4 linked regions of the Homo sapiens genome follow. The protein of the gene in region 1 interacts with the protein of each later gene in a biochemical or structural test. Each region holds a gene or a part of one and is shown on either strand. Other genes may lie near its edges.

Region 1 (3,618 bases):
AAGCTTAAGTGTATTTGAGGGGCGATGTGAAGATCAGCATTCTAAGCTCAATAACCATACTTCAGAATTAGCTTAACCTAATACGGTTCTCTGGGTTCTTAGATACAATGTGAATAAGACAAATAGGTAAATATAGATTTTAGTTAAATAATAGAGTAAAAAGTTTAACCAAGGCAAATCTAAAGTCAATTACAAAGTAGTTTCCACAAGTAAGTCCCCTCAATTCACCTTTGACTATCAGTATCTTGCCGATTACCAATAACTTGATGTCAGTGCTATTTTCACTGCTATGTCTTAGTTATCAGGCTCCTTAAGAATGGTATTTGCTGAGGAAACTATTTTCAAGTTGTCACCCACCCTCTCCCCATCCCTAGTCTTCTAAACAAATAATGAAGTCGCTTAAAAGCCCTCCTGGCATATTTTGACTTCATAATAGACAAGGAAAAGAATCTCTCAATTTTTAGAAAATAAGAAAATTTCACCCAGCAATCCTATGATAAGGTTTAAAGAGTGCTATCTATGTCAGTTAACAATAATGATTATTTATTGCACCACTACTTATGCCAGGATACTTAGTCTATAACAATCACAATCCTTCAAAATAGGTGTTATTACTCAAATAGTATAGATGAGGAAACTCAGAGTTTAATAATAACAATCACAATCCTTCAAAATAGGTGTTATTACTCAAATAGTATAGATGAGGAAACTCAGAGTTTAATAATATAAGCAAAACGTTACCATTATTAATTAGTAAAGTAAGGTGTCAAGTCAAAGTTCATCTGGTTTATCACACTTGCTTCCACTATCTCTTTCTTCATCGCACAATATAATTAGTTCTTTATCAAAATCTATTGTCAAGAGGAAGATATTATTTAATTGCCCTTATTTCAAAATAGAATATATATAAATTTATTGGGTACTCTTTCATAAAATATAAGTCAATTTTTTGTTTGCTTGTTTTCTTATAAAATGTCAATCAATTTTTTAGAATGCATTTTGAATCCTTAAAAACTATAGTTTTTCATTTTTTTGGCAATGGCAACAGTGGTTTACATATGCAATTTTTATTTAAAAGTATTCATGATTCAATTGGTACTTTTTAAAAATACTAGAATAGGGAAGATCATTCTAAGAAGATCACAAACTCAAAATCCATAAAACAAAACTACAATAAATTCAATTTTTTTAAATCGTGACCAGTAAAAAAGGCATAAACAAGGTCCTAAAACAAATAACATGTAAGAGAGCCTCCACAAATCACTAAAAATTACTAATAGAAAAGGGAATACAAATGGCTGTAACCAAATTTTTTTAAAAAGGCTCTCAATCTTTCTGACAAGAAAATTGCAAATAAGTCTACAGTGGCATCTTTTTCATTGAAACATTGGTAAAGATTGCCATACACTGAGTTGGCGAGGATGTGGGAAAGTCCCCTTAGTACACACCACTTATACACACTTCCTCTACAAAAGTAAATTTCACAATATTTATTAAATTTAAAATATACTAACCCTTTGGCCCAACAACTTTGTTTCTAGGAATCTGTCTCAAATATACATTCATACATGTAGGAAATGCATGTACGAAGATATTTATCACAGATAATACTGTGATAAATACTAAAAATTTCTAATGACAAAATACTTAGAAAAAAACTTAAATACCCACAAATATGGTACTAGTTAAAGAAATTACAGAATATTCATTAAAAGGGATAGTATATATCCTATATCCATTAAGGTTAACGAGGCAGCTATACAGTCACAGATGTGGAACTGACCTCTTATAAAGCAAACTGCAGGACACATTTCTGTTTTTACGTTTACATCCATCCATACATACATGTATGAGCACACACATACACACATATACAGACACACACAATATTATATATACACATGTATTTATTCTTATGCATAGACTGTCTCTAGAAGAGTATACAATATAAAATATACTAGTAACAGTAGTTGGCTCTGGGTAGGGGAAATAGGTAGCTAAGAAATTTGGGGGCTGCGGGTTGCTCACACCTGTAATCCCAACACTTTGAGAGGCCAAGGCAGGAGGATCACTTGAGCCCAGGAGTTCAAGACCAGCCTGGGCAACATAGGGAGACCTCATCTCTACAAGAATAAAAAATAAATTAGTCGAGTGTCATGACACCTGCCTGTGGTCCCAGTTACTCCAGAGGCTGAGGTGAGAGAATCGCTTGAGCCCAGGAGGTCGTGGCTGCAGTGAGCCGTTATTTCGCCATCTCACTCCAGCCTGGGCCTCAAACCAAGAAAGACCCTATCTCAAAAAAAAAAAAAAAAAAAGAAAGAAAGAAAAGAAAAGAAAGAAAAAAAAAGATTTTATTTCAAAATTTTATAAATTAACTTTAGAAAATACTTTTAAAATTGAATTATTTTAAAAAATAGAGAACTGCTCACTATATATGTGCTAAATATATACTAATTGTTATCCTAACCTATCAGGAAAATTTTTACTTATTGCCTTCCTTTATTTGGGAAGCAAATTAACCCTTTAACAGAAAATCTAAACTATGAATGAAAATATACACATCAAGAAACACATAATTTCTAATTTGTGTTACAAAAAGCTTATCTGAAAGGCTATGATATGTACATATTAGAAACTCAGTATTTACTGAATACTTTTCTATTGATTTAGTGGGTTTGCTTTCCTCAGACATTTTTTCACAATTACACAAAAACCCACTGGAAATTCAACTTTTAATAAATTATGTTTTTCTTTCAAACAATGATTCCTCATTGTCCCACAAAATTGATAAGCTACCTCATTAACATTACCACAATTTAAATAAACACAATTTATTAAGTACTTATTACGTGCAGGTGTTAAGGATGCTGCAAAACACAAACTCAAAAAAAGGGTAAATTTTGATTCTTGCCCTCAAGAAGTTTACAATCTTGAAAGACAAGACTTAAAAACATTAATCATTCAGATGTCTTGGAAGATTGAAAAAAAAACATTAGTCAGTAAAAGGACATTATAAATTTTACTGATAAATTGAATTAGCCAAATTTAAACTGCTACAGCAATACATGAAAGGATTCTTTAAAGTAATTACTGATTAGGGTTCTACTGAGATTTTTAAATGCTTCCAAAATTATAGTACCTCGCTCATATGTAAAATGGTATTATTTGATGATGATAGACTTCCTATGTGGATGTTCAGCTGGACTTTGAGGAAATTACTAATAATTAGGAATAGCTTTTAATTATTCAGGCTCCTAAGGTGAGAGATAACAGTAATGGTCTCAGTTTTGATCACTCAGTTCTCTTATTAAAAATATCTCAAGCATGAATCTTTCACTACATGCATATTTAAAATTATATGCATCTAGGTATTGTCATCTATATATTAAATATTAATAAGGTTCAAATTCCTTCTTTCTCTCCACTTTGCATGAATACTTAATATGAACATTGAAACTCACAGATCATGCAAAAATATTTTTATCTAACCATTGCAGTATCTTCACACATCAAATGTATTTTTTAACATAAATGTTAAAAGGCAGCAGACATGCATTTAAATTTCAGTTTATTTTTCTCTCTACTCTTAAAATACATGTTAATTTTCAATGTAATGAA
Region 2 (3,618 bases), about 76 Mb from region 1:
TAGGTTTACATTTGTCCAGCGTTTCAAAATTTTTTTTTTTTTTTTTAAAACGGAGTCTCACTCTGTTGCCCAGGCTGGCATGCAGTGGCACGATCTCGGCTCACTGCAACCTCCGCCTCCTGGGTTCAAGTGATTTTCCTGCCTCAGCCTCCCAAGTAGCTGGGACTACAGGCGGGCACCACCACACCTGGCTAATTTTTGTATTTTTAGTAAAGACGAGGTTTCACCATGTTGACCAGGCTGGTCTGTCTCGAACTCCTGGCTTCAAGTGATCCGCCTGCCTCAGTCTCCCAAAGTGCTGGGATTACAGGTATGAGCCACTGTGCCCAGCATTTCAAAGTATTTGAAACAAGAGAAGGGAACATCCCATGTTATCTCAGTCTGCCATACTGACCAGAAGTCTAAAAGTTTATTTAGAAATAGATACTTCTGCTAACCTTTTATACTTATAAAATAAATAATTATAAGTTAACTATTTTTTTCCAAGACAGAGTCTTGCTCTTGTTGCCCAGGCTGGAGTGCAGTGGCGCGATCTTGGCTCACTGCAACATCTGCCTTCCAAGTTCAAGCGATTCTCCTGCCTCAGCCTCCCGAGTAGCTGGGATTACAGGTGCCGCCACCATGCCCGGCTCATTTTTGTATTTTTAGTAGAGATGGGGTTTCACTATGTTGGCCAGGCTGATCTCAAATTCCTGCCCTCGTGATCTGCCTGCCTTGGCCTCCCAAAGTGCTGGGATTACAGGCGTGAGCCACCACACCCAGCCAAGTTAACTATTTTTATATATAAGTATGTATATATACCGACAGCTTATAAGTTAACTATACTTATAAATTGGTTAACTTGGTAAGTTAACTAATCCTACATACTTTATATCAGAAGATACAACTGCAGATTTCAAAAGATACCACAATTTTGAGGCTAGTCTAGTAATTTTTAGAAATAATTTTGGAATCTTCAGTGAAGCATACATAAATTGTTGAGACCATGTGGGACAATGAATGACTAGGGCCACATGTACGTATAAGGATGTTTTGGTCAATGATGGACAACATATACGACGGTGGTCCCATAAGATTATAATATCATATTTTGATTTTACCTTTTCTATGTTTTGATATGTTTAGTCACACAGTACTTACCACTGTGTTACAACTGCCTATAGTATTCAGTACAGTAACATTCTATACAGGTTTGTGGCCTAGGAGAACTGGGCTATATATACCACATAGCCCAGGTGTGTAGTTGGCTCTACCATCTAGGTGTGTGTAAGTACACTCTATGATGTCCGCACGCACAGTGATGAAACTGCCAAATGACACATTTCTCAGAACATATTAAGCTACACATGAATGTAATTTGGAAGCAGAAATGTAAGCCTCTATTTTGTTTTCCGCTAACCCCTTTTTGGAACTGACAAGTAACAATATCCATCCACATTCAAAGATGTCCTGCAAAGTGATTATTTGTTCATTTAAAATATGAACAAAAACAGAAGTCATTTAAAATATAATGACATAGTTACCTTTAACCCTCTTGCCATATTCAAAGCAACTTTTAAAATTATGGCTGCTGGAAAAGGATCTTGGCTGGCTTTATATCGTTCTTCTATTAAGTCATTTAGAGACTTTTCACCTCCATATTCCATAGCAAGACACAGACTGCCATCATTGGCTTCAGTAAAAGCACGATAACCTTAAAGAAAACATGACATTTCTTCACTAATATAGAGAAGAACAATAATATTTAAGTCCTTTATAGTAACGTGATTGAAAATATGGATCTGGACTAACGCTGACAAATATACAATGAAACAGCTACTATTTACAAGACTAATTCAGTAGATCTCATTTAAAATGCCTTCAGTGTTTGCCAGTAGTACCACAAATTAAAATACTTTTATTTTCCTTTGCTTCCCTAAATATAATAGTTTCACCAGCCCTACTTGTATTAAAAATGAAAAATGAAATCCAGGAAATTACCTAAATGGATTTAAATTATCTAAATGAAGATCATTTTATATTCTTAAAATCTTCATAGAACTAGCAACATAATTATTATATCTGTTCTCATGAAGTTTATATACTTAGGCATCAAAAAATACTATATGCAAATTTTTATTTTAGACCAATCACATTAATTTGATACCCATTAAATATCCAGCCCCATCCTCTTCATTTCTATTAGTGAAACCAGTTAAGAGAGCATATAAGCTGTTTCTGAATAAACAAAATAATATACCAGATACTGCTACCAAATTTAAACGTACCAACAATGTTTGGATGATGAAGGCTTTTCAAAATCTTAGCTTCATCCATTAGTCTCTTTTGATACACACTTCGATAATGATCATTACATATAGGATTAATCTTTTTTACAGCCCAAGGAGAATGAGACAAACCTCTTGGAGATCTAAGAAAAAAATTCATTTAAAAAGGATAGAAAACAATAAAACCACAATACTTTTTAAAATGACTTCCAAATTTTTGGGAAAAAGCTTGAAAGAAATTTGCTTTTAAAAACAGAATTTAAAATAGTTTGGACTATGAACACCTCTGCTACATTTCCATTTCAATTGGGAGGTAAGATCTAATATACTAAAACAAGTCTTACTATCTATACTGTGGAAGGGAGAGGATGAAAAGAATTTGAAGGGTAAAGATGGAATGTTACAAACTTTAAACCTGAAAATTGTAACTTTCCAATTTTTCCATTTGAGCATGTTGGACTACAACTTATTAAATATTTAATTATATGTATCAGAGATGAGTTATAGGATCCTGAAGAAAAAAACATTAGGAAATTTAAAGAAGAGATAATCAAGAACATTTTACCCATATATCATCATCCAAAGAACAGCATGCTGTTCTTATTGCTCCCCTACACTGACCAATTCACCTTATACCTTTTACCACATGCTCAAAGATATGTGCTTAAGGAGATAATGATGAACATACAAATGAGAAAATTTTAAACTTTCTATTTTCTAGGAAGATTCAGCCATTTTACAAATATTTAAGGTATAAATGTTTTAAGGCCTAAATAGGTAAAATAAAGTCAGGGAAAGGTTTACCTGAGGTGGTAGATATTTATGAGTAGAGCAAATCACAAAATACTTAAGTATATGCAGCATAACAGCACAAAACCTAGTGAAAGAGCCTCAGAAGTTTAAGACAGAAAGTTTAATGGTAAGAACACAAAACAAGAGATTGAATCAAAGATCTGTTTAGCTTTGGACTCCCTCACAGGTATAGCTCTAAGACTGCAGAACCTTTTTTGTTTAATCAAAAAGCCTATACTAAAAGGATCACAAGATTTCTTAATTCATGTACATCTATCATCCGTAAGTTGATCTAAACTATTCTTAAACCTCCAGTTTTAAATAACAGCAGCATTTGAGGATAATGATGAGCACCTGCATATCATTTTATTATGAAAAATATATTTTTCAAATTTCAAGGGTTGAAAGTTTAGCTCTTGAAAGTTTAGAATTTAGTAAACAAGTCAATCTTCACCTTTTCCATAACATATTCTAATCTATCGAATAAGAATAGATTTATGAAATCTGAATACTCAACCATGCAAAAAGCTGGTTCATTAAAAAGACTAATAGAAAAAAG
Region 3 (3,618 bases), on another chromosome or scaffold:
GGTTAAATTGTACTTACTGATGCATGTTGACAGAAATGATCCAACTCTCTTAGAGGGAAACAGGCAGGTGCTGAAATACTCCAGAAAAGGAGCCAGAATTAGTAATGGTAGGCTGCTGATGGCATTCATTACTGCAATCGGCAGAAGAAATCCATCCAAATTCAGGTTGGAATTCATAGTTTGCAGATAATATCCTGAAGGAATCTGTATTCGAGAGGGAAACATCCATGCATTAAGACAGGGGTTTAACTTTGAAGAAAGCATCGTCCACCAGAGGCCTACCCTCTTGCACGTACTCTGTGATGGATGAGCTGGATGTTGCCTAGTTTTTCAAGTTCCCAGTTATGAGCTGATAAAGGGTCTTCATCTGTGGTGGTAGGAGCTCTGTCTAGTCTATTGACAATAGTACTCATTACTCATGAAATACTCTATCATCATTTAGTCTCTCTTAATTTTTCTATGAAAAGTAATGATGGCCCCAATTTTGTGCTTAAGATGACACATAAAAAGCCAAATAACTTAAATTCTGTAGATAAGCAAAATGACTTTTCTTCATGAACACTAATATAAAACCAGTAAAAAATACTAAAGACGTCTGTTTTTACCCTGATGAAAAAAATGAGGCTAGAATAGATTCTTTAAAAAGCATCTAGTTTGGTGGCAATATAGAAACGACTTTTTCCTAAGAAGAGGGGCCCAATGTGGACACGTGTTAATTGCTGTAGGCTGTCTTTGAGGGGGCTATTTAGAGAGGCTTTGTTTCCAATGTGAACTAAGTAACAGGGGGAGGAAAAAAAAACCTTGTGTCTTTGCCCTCCCTTCAAACTAATTACGTGATGCTAGAATTCCATAAAGGAAACAACATGAAAAAGGTTTGCATGATAAAGTGAAAGATACAATTTTTTTAAAAAAAAACCCTGTGCTCCACCCCAAATCCTCAATGTATTGTTAGAATTTCTTCATTTTAAAAATAACCCCAATGCTAACTAAAACTCTAACACTGATTTGGAGCCTCTTAGTGTATTCCAATCCTCTTGGCAACCGAGTGTGATATCAGAACCAAGGGATGATGTCACATGAAAGAGGTGTCTCTTCACTTTTCTAGTACATGAGCTTTGTTACAGCTTCATCAGCTTCATCATGATCTTTTTTATTTTTATTTTTTTTGAGACAGAGTCTCGCTCTGTCACCCAGGCTGGAGTGCAGTGGTGTGATCTCGGCTCACGGCAAGCTCCACCTCCCAGGTTCACGCCATTCTCCTGCCTCAGCCTTCCGAGTAGCTGAGACTACAGGCGCCCGCCACCACGCCTGGCTAATTTTTCTGTATTTTTAGTAGAGATGAGGTTTCACCGTGTTAGTCAGGATGGTCTCGATCTCCTGACCTCGTGATCTGCCTGCCTCAGCCTCTCAAAGTGCTGGGATTACAGGTGTGAGCCACCGTGCCCGGCCCATCATGATCTTTAGTAGCGCATAGTATTTCTTTAATTCCCAGTGGTACACAAAGCTATTGAGTGTCATAGACAGAAAGTCAACCAAGTCTTCTTGAGGAATGGATCCTCCAAACTCGTATGGTACAAGAGCTGCATTAGGATCCCTGCTTCACCACCATCCTGGGAGAGCAGCCTCGCTCAAATATCCAGATGATAACTTCTCATTTGAAACATTTGCTAACCCCTTCTCTAGACTCAATTGTACAATTCAAGAGGGTATATATGGAGAATCAGTATTATGGTGTCAGTACAGCTGTTACCAAGTCCACTAATTGTAAAATGAGCCTATTGCCATGTTAACTGCGCAAACACAGGACAAGACCACATTTTCACTGAGATTCTTTCTGTAGACAACGTGTCCTGGTGATCATTTATCTCCCAATCTTTAATTTGACCCTTAGCATAGTAAACAAGGATTGTTTTGGCTGAGTACAGATGGCAAGAGTTAAAGGAACATTAGTTAGTTCTGCCCTACTTCAATAAAATTATTAAGCATGGATCCCCCATCGGAGGAAAATGAATGATGTGTTTTAACAAAAAGTGCTGGCAGCGGAACAACTCTAAGACTGAAAGGCTCCCAGCACAACTTGGAAGTTTCTGTTACTGATTTCAAATGAGAATTATTGTTAATAGGAATAAAGTTATTATCGGCATGAATCACAGACACAGAAATATGTTAACTTAATAATGTGGCAAATGTACTATTAATCTTTAGTGAAGCAATATTAATATATTGCCTAATCTTAGAAAAGGCTGCAGTGTCTTGAAAGCTTGAAATCATTTCTGCCTCTGCCTGAAGTTCTGAAATCATCGCCCTGTAAAATTTTAAATACTTTTATTTCATCCAAGCCTTTGAGTATTCAGAAATAATTGCTGTCAATAGAGATTCATTCTCACCTTTGACTGGCCAGTAATGTCAAATGGCAACCTCATCAGCCGTAATATCAACATATTTTAGATGTATGTCTTGCAACTGAAGGTCAATAATGGCTACTAAATTTAAAATATGTATGAAATTCTATGATGTTTTATTCTTGGTACTTTGATTGCCTTTGTACTGGTGATTATTTCATCTGGGGGCAAAAAACTAAACCCAGCCTATCCTATTGGAAATTCCTCTGCCTCCCTGGTGAAGTATGATCTAAGCATTTTCTTTGAAGTTTCTAGCATAACATTACTGTATATAATTTTGGAATCTATGTAGTTTGTATCAGGGACTTTTAACCCAATGCAAGAGTGATATTGAGGATAATAAAGCATGGCGCTTGACACTAATCCTGAGGTGGGATGTTGCTCTGCCACACATTAGCAAGGTGACTGGGAACAAGTTGCAACTTAGTTTCTGAGCCTCAGATTTAGGAGAGTAATAGCCATGTAGCCTTGCTGTGGGGATTAAATTACGTACTGTGAAGCCATCTTTTAGAAGCTATGGCACTTAATAGGTGATCAGTAACTATTAGTTTCTGTGCTTTGCAATAAGTTGCACATCTAGATTTGGTGATATGCTTAAAAATTAGTTTATCAAAATTTATTGTAATTTATGTTCAATTAAAAAATATATGACAGTGTGCAAAGAAGGGTCCAACTTAGTGGAAAGAAATGTCAGGTGTCATTGCATTATGAAGGTAAGGAACTGGTATTCTGTGCTACTTGCACATAAGCTTTTGAGGTTAGCTATGGGCCATGTAGTAATTTTGTACTGTTTATCGGTTCCTCCAATCTAAGATGTTTTATTATATTAATGCTTACATATATGGGTAATATTTCTGCTGTATTCTGTTTTTGTGCCTACTGCTATTATAGAGTCAAGAGGGAGTTTGAATCTTCTAAATCAGACTAGCTTTCATGCATTATTTAGTCTAGAGGTCAAGAAATTTTCTGTAAAGGGCCAGATAGTAAATATGTCCACATATGGGTTCCGTGGCAATTACTCAACTCTGCTATTTTTGTGCATAAGCAGACATAGATACGACAAAACAAAGAGCATGGCTATGTTCTGATAAAACTTCATTTATGGACGCTAAAATTTAAATTTTATATATTTTTCTTTGCTTTTTCTCTTTTTTTTTTTTTTGAGATGGAGTTTCATTCTTGTTTCCCAGGCTGGAGTACAATGGCATGATCTCTG
Region 4 (3,618 bases), on another chromosome or scaffold:
AGCTATTCAAACATTTTTAGCTCTTGGGTTCTTTTTAATGTTTAAGAATTAATCTCTTAAGACTTATTTTCTTACTACCCAACAAAATTTAAGTTGAAAAATACAGATGATAATTCCATAGCAACGTGTGGGAGCTCTGTGTGAGTAAGGGCAAATGTAAAAGTGCGGAAAAGCCATGTTGCTTTCCTTTCTATCACATCGAGGTGACAGGCTATGACTTCCAGAGTGAATGCTGTCACAGGTACTTCATAATAACAGCTGCATTACAGAATGAGAACAAAACGAGCAAATCACTTGCACTTACCCGCGAATTTCTACGTCAGAAATTCTGGCAATGCAAGGGAATCACACTTCTTTCAATTTTCTCCATTTTGCGGGGGGAGGCGGGTTGTTTTCCCGTTTCTCAATTTCTATCAGCAACTATCGTTAGCACCACAGATGCACTGGATCGCAACCTGCCCCTATGTGTTTGTAGAGGCTAATTTGTCTTTTGCACATTAGCTAGAACTAGCTCATCACACAAAGGACATGGAGCGTGTAAATCCTAAGTCACTCAGGTACAAAATCATTCTTTCGACACACTTCATATTTGCCTCTGGTGCAGCAGTTCTGAACACCAATCTCTCACGTACTGACAATCCTTGAAGCCGGTCTGATTCAATTTGGATAAGACTAAATATTATTCTTTATCTTCATGAGGGATTTTTTATGTTTAAAGATGTTAAATAGCCCATGTCTACAAACCAATTCGAATGTCTGACCTTTACAGCTTTCCAGTTTGTTCCCTAGAAATCTTTTAAATCCATATTACTGCCTTGTTTTTCATGATCAAGTATGTATTTCTAATGTAAATGAGAAACTTGGTATAAAATATTAACAGAGAATGTTAGGTTTGGCTTTGACAAAATGGGTTTGGCTGACGATAAAGGCAAAAAGACACAGAATATTTAGTAGATCTTGATACTGATGTTTCTCAATCTAAGTGTGTGTGTGTGTGTTTGATGTACCTTAAACTAAAAGGCCAGGCTGAAAGTTTCCTAGGAGGTACATTAGGACCACATTCCTTTCCTAATTCAGTATATGCACTGACTTCAGTCTGCAAGTTCTCACTGCTACCATTTGGAGAATGAGGCTAATAATCGAAAAACAAATGGCTGCGTTTGTGCAGGAGGCACCCAGAAGGGAAAGTCCAGTGTTGTTTTTCTCAACCAGCTTCCCCTATCCCTGATTGATAAGTTCTTTGCCTGGTCCCTGCAAATTAAAGCACCTTTTGATATATCTGGGATGAGTCTTAGAGAAAAAGAAAACTGGGCCAGTCTCTAGCCTCAGTCGAAAGAAGGGCCTTTACCTTCAATGGAGATCGCCCGGCAGGCGAGGGGGATACTGATGTCGTGTGTCTTGCTGGTGAAGCTGTCAATGGGGAGAGAGATAACATTTCAATTAAGAAAAACCAGACGATTGACTATCTGCACATGCCCTCTGTGTTACAAACCCAAACAGATGATCCAGTGCATAAGGACCTTCTAAGCAAAGGGGGTGGTGAGGATGGGGGAGAAGCTAAATGATGCCTGTCTAGAATGGGTTCTCACAAAGGGTGGCACTGCCAAGATATGGGAGCATCAGTGAAAAGTTATCATGGCATATATGATGCTTTGACTATTGACAGGTTCCCAAACTGATCCAATGTCCTTTCCGTTTCCCCAAAGTCCAGGTGCTTCTGCACTGCTTGATCTGTCTCATAAGGTGCTTTTAGGTGTGAGATGCTAGGGAGCAGTTCTTGGGGAACAGCTGTTGACTTTGGCGTGAGCACCAATGGGAACACCATGGCCACCCCAGCAGCCTGGAACAGGTCTACGGGAACATATTTAATCAGCTCCCCCCAAACAACCCCAGTACTCCCCAAATAGGTAGAAAACCCTTGGCCATGGCCATACAACAGGTGCATGGTTTTCCATTTCTTCCCCTAATGCTTGTACTCAGGTCTTCCCATTATCCCCTGGTGGTGGGTCTCTATGGATTTCATCATCGTGGCCAAGAAGAGTGAACTGTTTGCTTTTTCTCACTAGATTTTCAAGTCCTACACCTGGAACACAGCATGTGTGATAGCACTGTTCCTGTGTGCATGCTTGTATAGCAAATCCAGCTCTCTAAAGCATAGCCCTGTATGGTAAAGGCTGGCGTGACACAGTCAACAGGGTGAGAGTCAGCCACATTTCTCAATTCCACAGAGACGTTTCGGTGAACTCTGGGTATGTCGCTCTGTGATTAGCTGCTACTCTCCCAGCTGTCACAGTGAGGTTTGCAACTCACAACTACTGAAAGGCTGTAAGAAAGAAAGACAGTTACAGAGCCCCACAACAGTGACCACAGATGATGACATAAGAACAGACCATGAGAGCAATCAGTGCAGAAGGGATGGCAGCCCTGCCAGTTAACTTGGGAGGGGTAAGGTCATCTGTGTGCTCTGGGTCCTAAGGGGTCAGTGAGAGTGCTCCATGATCACACTGGTAGTGTGCAGCCTCTCTCTTGCACTCTTGAATGCTGGGGCATGCTGTCAGCACGTGTCACATTCTAATACCAGCCTTAGTTCTCCTATCCTGTTGATCGTGGGTGCTGATTATGGAAGAAAATCACATCTGTATGGAGAAGCTGATCCTGACGGAGAACTATGTTCCTGCCTTAACGGTGGTAGAAAGTTGATTGTTCCCTAGGACCCTCTTCCTCCTGACTCAGGCAGTTGCTGACACCACCATGGTGGCCCCTGCAACCACAGCATATTTGCATCAATATTATTCCTTAAAAAATGCTTTTCAGGTTCTCAACTTTAGGGACACAACCAGGTTTAAATTGGAGACTGCCTGAATATATGTACATCGTGAATGAGATACAAATAGTTTGGCCGATAAGTTTTAGGCCTCTGTACACATACTGATATACTAATGCAGGTGATCAATAAGCTTAAAGTTATTTCTTGTTTTCTTTGAAGACCTCATATGTCTCTCAAAAATTATTGGTGACTTGACTTTTGGCTTTGACAAGTATAGAGTAAACTAGGTGGCACATAGTTTATTGTGTTTTGTGGCAAGGTCTCACTTTGTTGCCCAGGCTAGAGTGCAGTGGCTCAATCTTGGCTCACTGCAACCTCTGCTTCCTGGGCTCAAGCAATTCTCCCACCTAAGCCTCCCAACTAGCTAGGACTAGAGGTGTGTGCCACCATGCCTGGCTAATTTTTGCATTTTTTTTTGTAGAGATGGGGTTTTGCCATGTTGTACAGGCTTCTCTCAAAACTCCTGGGCTCAAGTGATCTGCCTGCCTTGGCCTCCCAAAGTGCTGGGATTACAGGTGTGAACTACCTTATTTGGCCCAGGCTGAAGTGCAGTGGTGCCATCTTGGTTCACTGCAACCTCTGACTTCTGGGCTCAAGCCATCCTCCCAAGTAGCTGGGACTACAGGTGTGTACCACCACACCTGGCTAATTTTTATATTTTTTGTAGAGACGGGGTTTTGTCATGCTGCCCAGGCTGGTCCCAAACTTGTGAGTTCAAGTGATCCACTCACCTTGGTCTCCCAAAATGCTGGTATTACAGGCATAAGCCAAAACACCTGGCCAAGATTTTG

Evidence for each region. The genes of interacting proteins can lie anywhere in the genome.
Region 2: the proteins of RIMS2 (region 1) and PBK interact in a test that uses a peptide from one of them, tested with the Homo sapiens proteins (one large-scale study listed by IntAct).
Region 3: the proteins of RIMS2 (region 1) and SLC15A5 interact in a test that uses a peptide from one of them, tested with the Homo sapiens proteins (one large-scale study listed by IntAct).
Region 4: the proteins of RIMS2 (region 1) and DOCK4 interact in a test that uses a peptide from one of them, tested with the Homo sapiens proteins (one large-scale study listed by IntAct).

The regions. Positions count from the first base shown.
Region 1 is NC_000008.11:103,503,544-103,507,161, reverse strand, and holds part of RIMS2 (regulating synaptic membrane exocytosis protein 2), read right to left. Parts: intron 1-3,618. UniProt on the Homo sapiens protein: Rab effector involved in exocytosis. May act as scaffold protein. Plays a role in dendrite formation by melanocytes.
Region 2 is NC_000008.11:27,820,796-27,824,413, forward strand, and holds part of PBK (lymphokine-activated killer T-cell-originated protein kinase), read right to left. Parts: intron 2,411-3,618; coding exon 2,268-2,410; intron 1,694-2,267; coding exon 1,524-1,693; intron 1-1,523. UniProt on the Homo sapiens protein: Phosphorylates MAP kinase p38. Seems to be active only in mitosis. May also play a role in the activation of lymphoid cells.
Region 3 is NC_000012.12:16,239,664-16,243,281, forward strand, and holds part of SLC15A5 (solute carrier family 15 member 5), read right to left. Parts: intron 205-3,618; coding exon 18-204; intron 1-17. UniProt on the Homo sapiens protein: Proton oligopeptide cotransporter.
Region 4 is NC_000007.14:111,730,878-111,734,495, forward strand, and holds part of DOCK4 (dedicator of cytokinesis protein 4), read right to left. Parts: intron 1,411-3,618; coding exon 1,349-1,410; intron 1-1,348. UniProt on the Homo sapiens protein: Functions as a guanine nucleotide exchange factor (GEF) that promotes the exchange of GDP to GTP, converting inactive GDP-bound small GTPases into their active GTP-bound form. Involved in regulation of adherens junction between cells.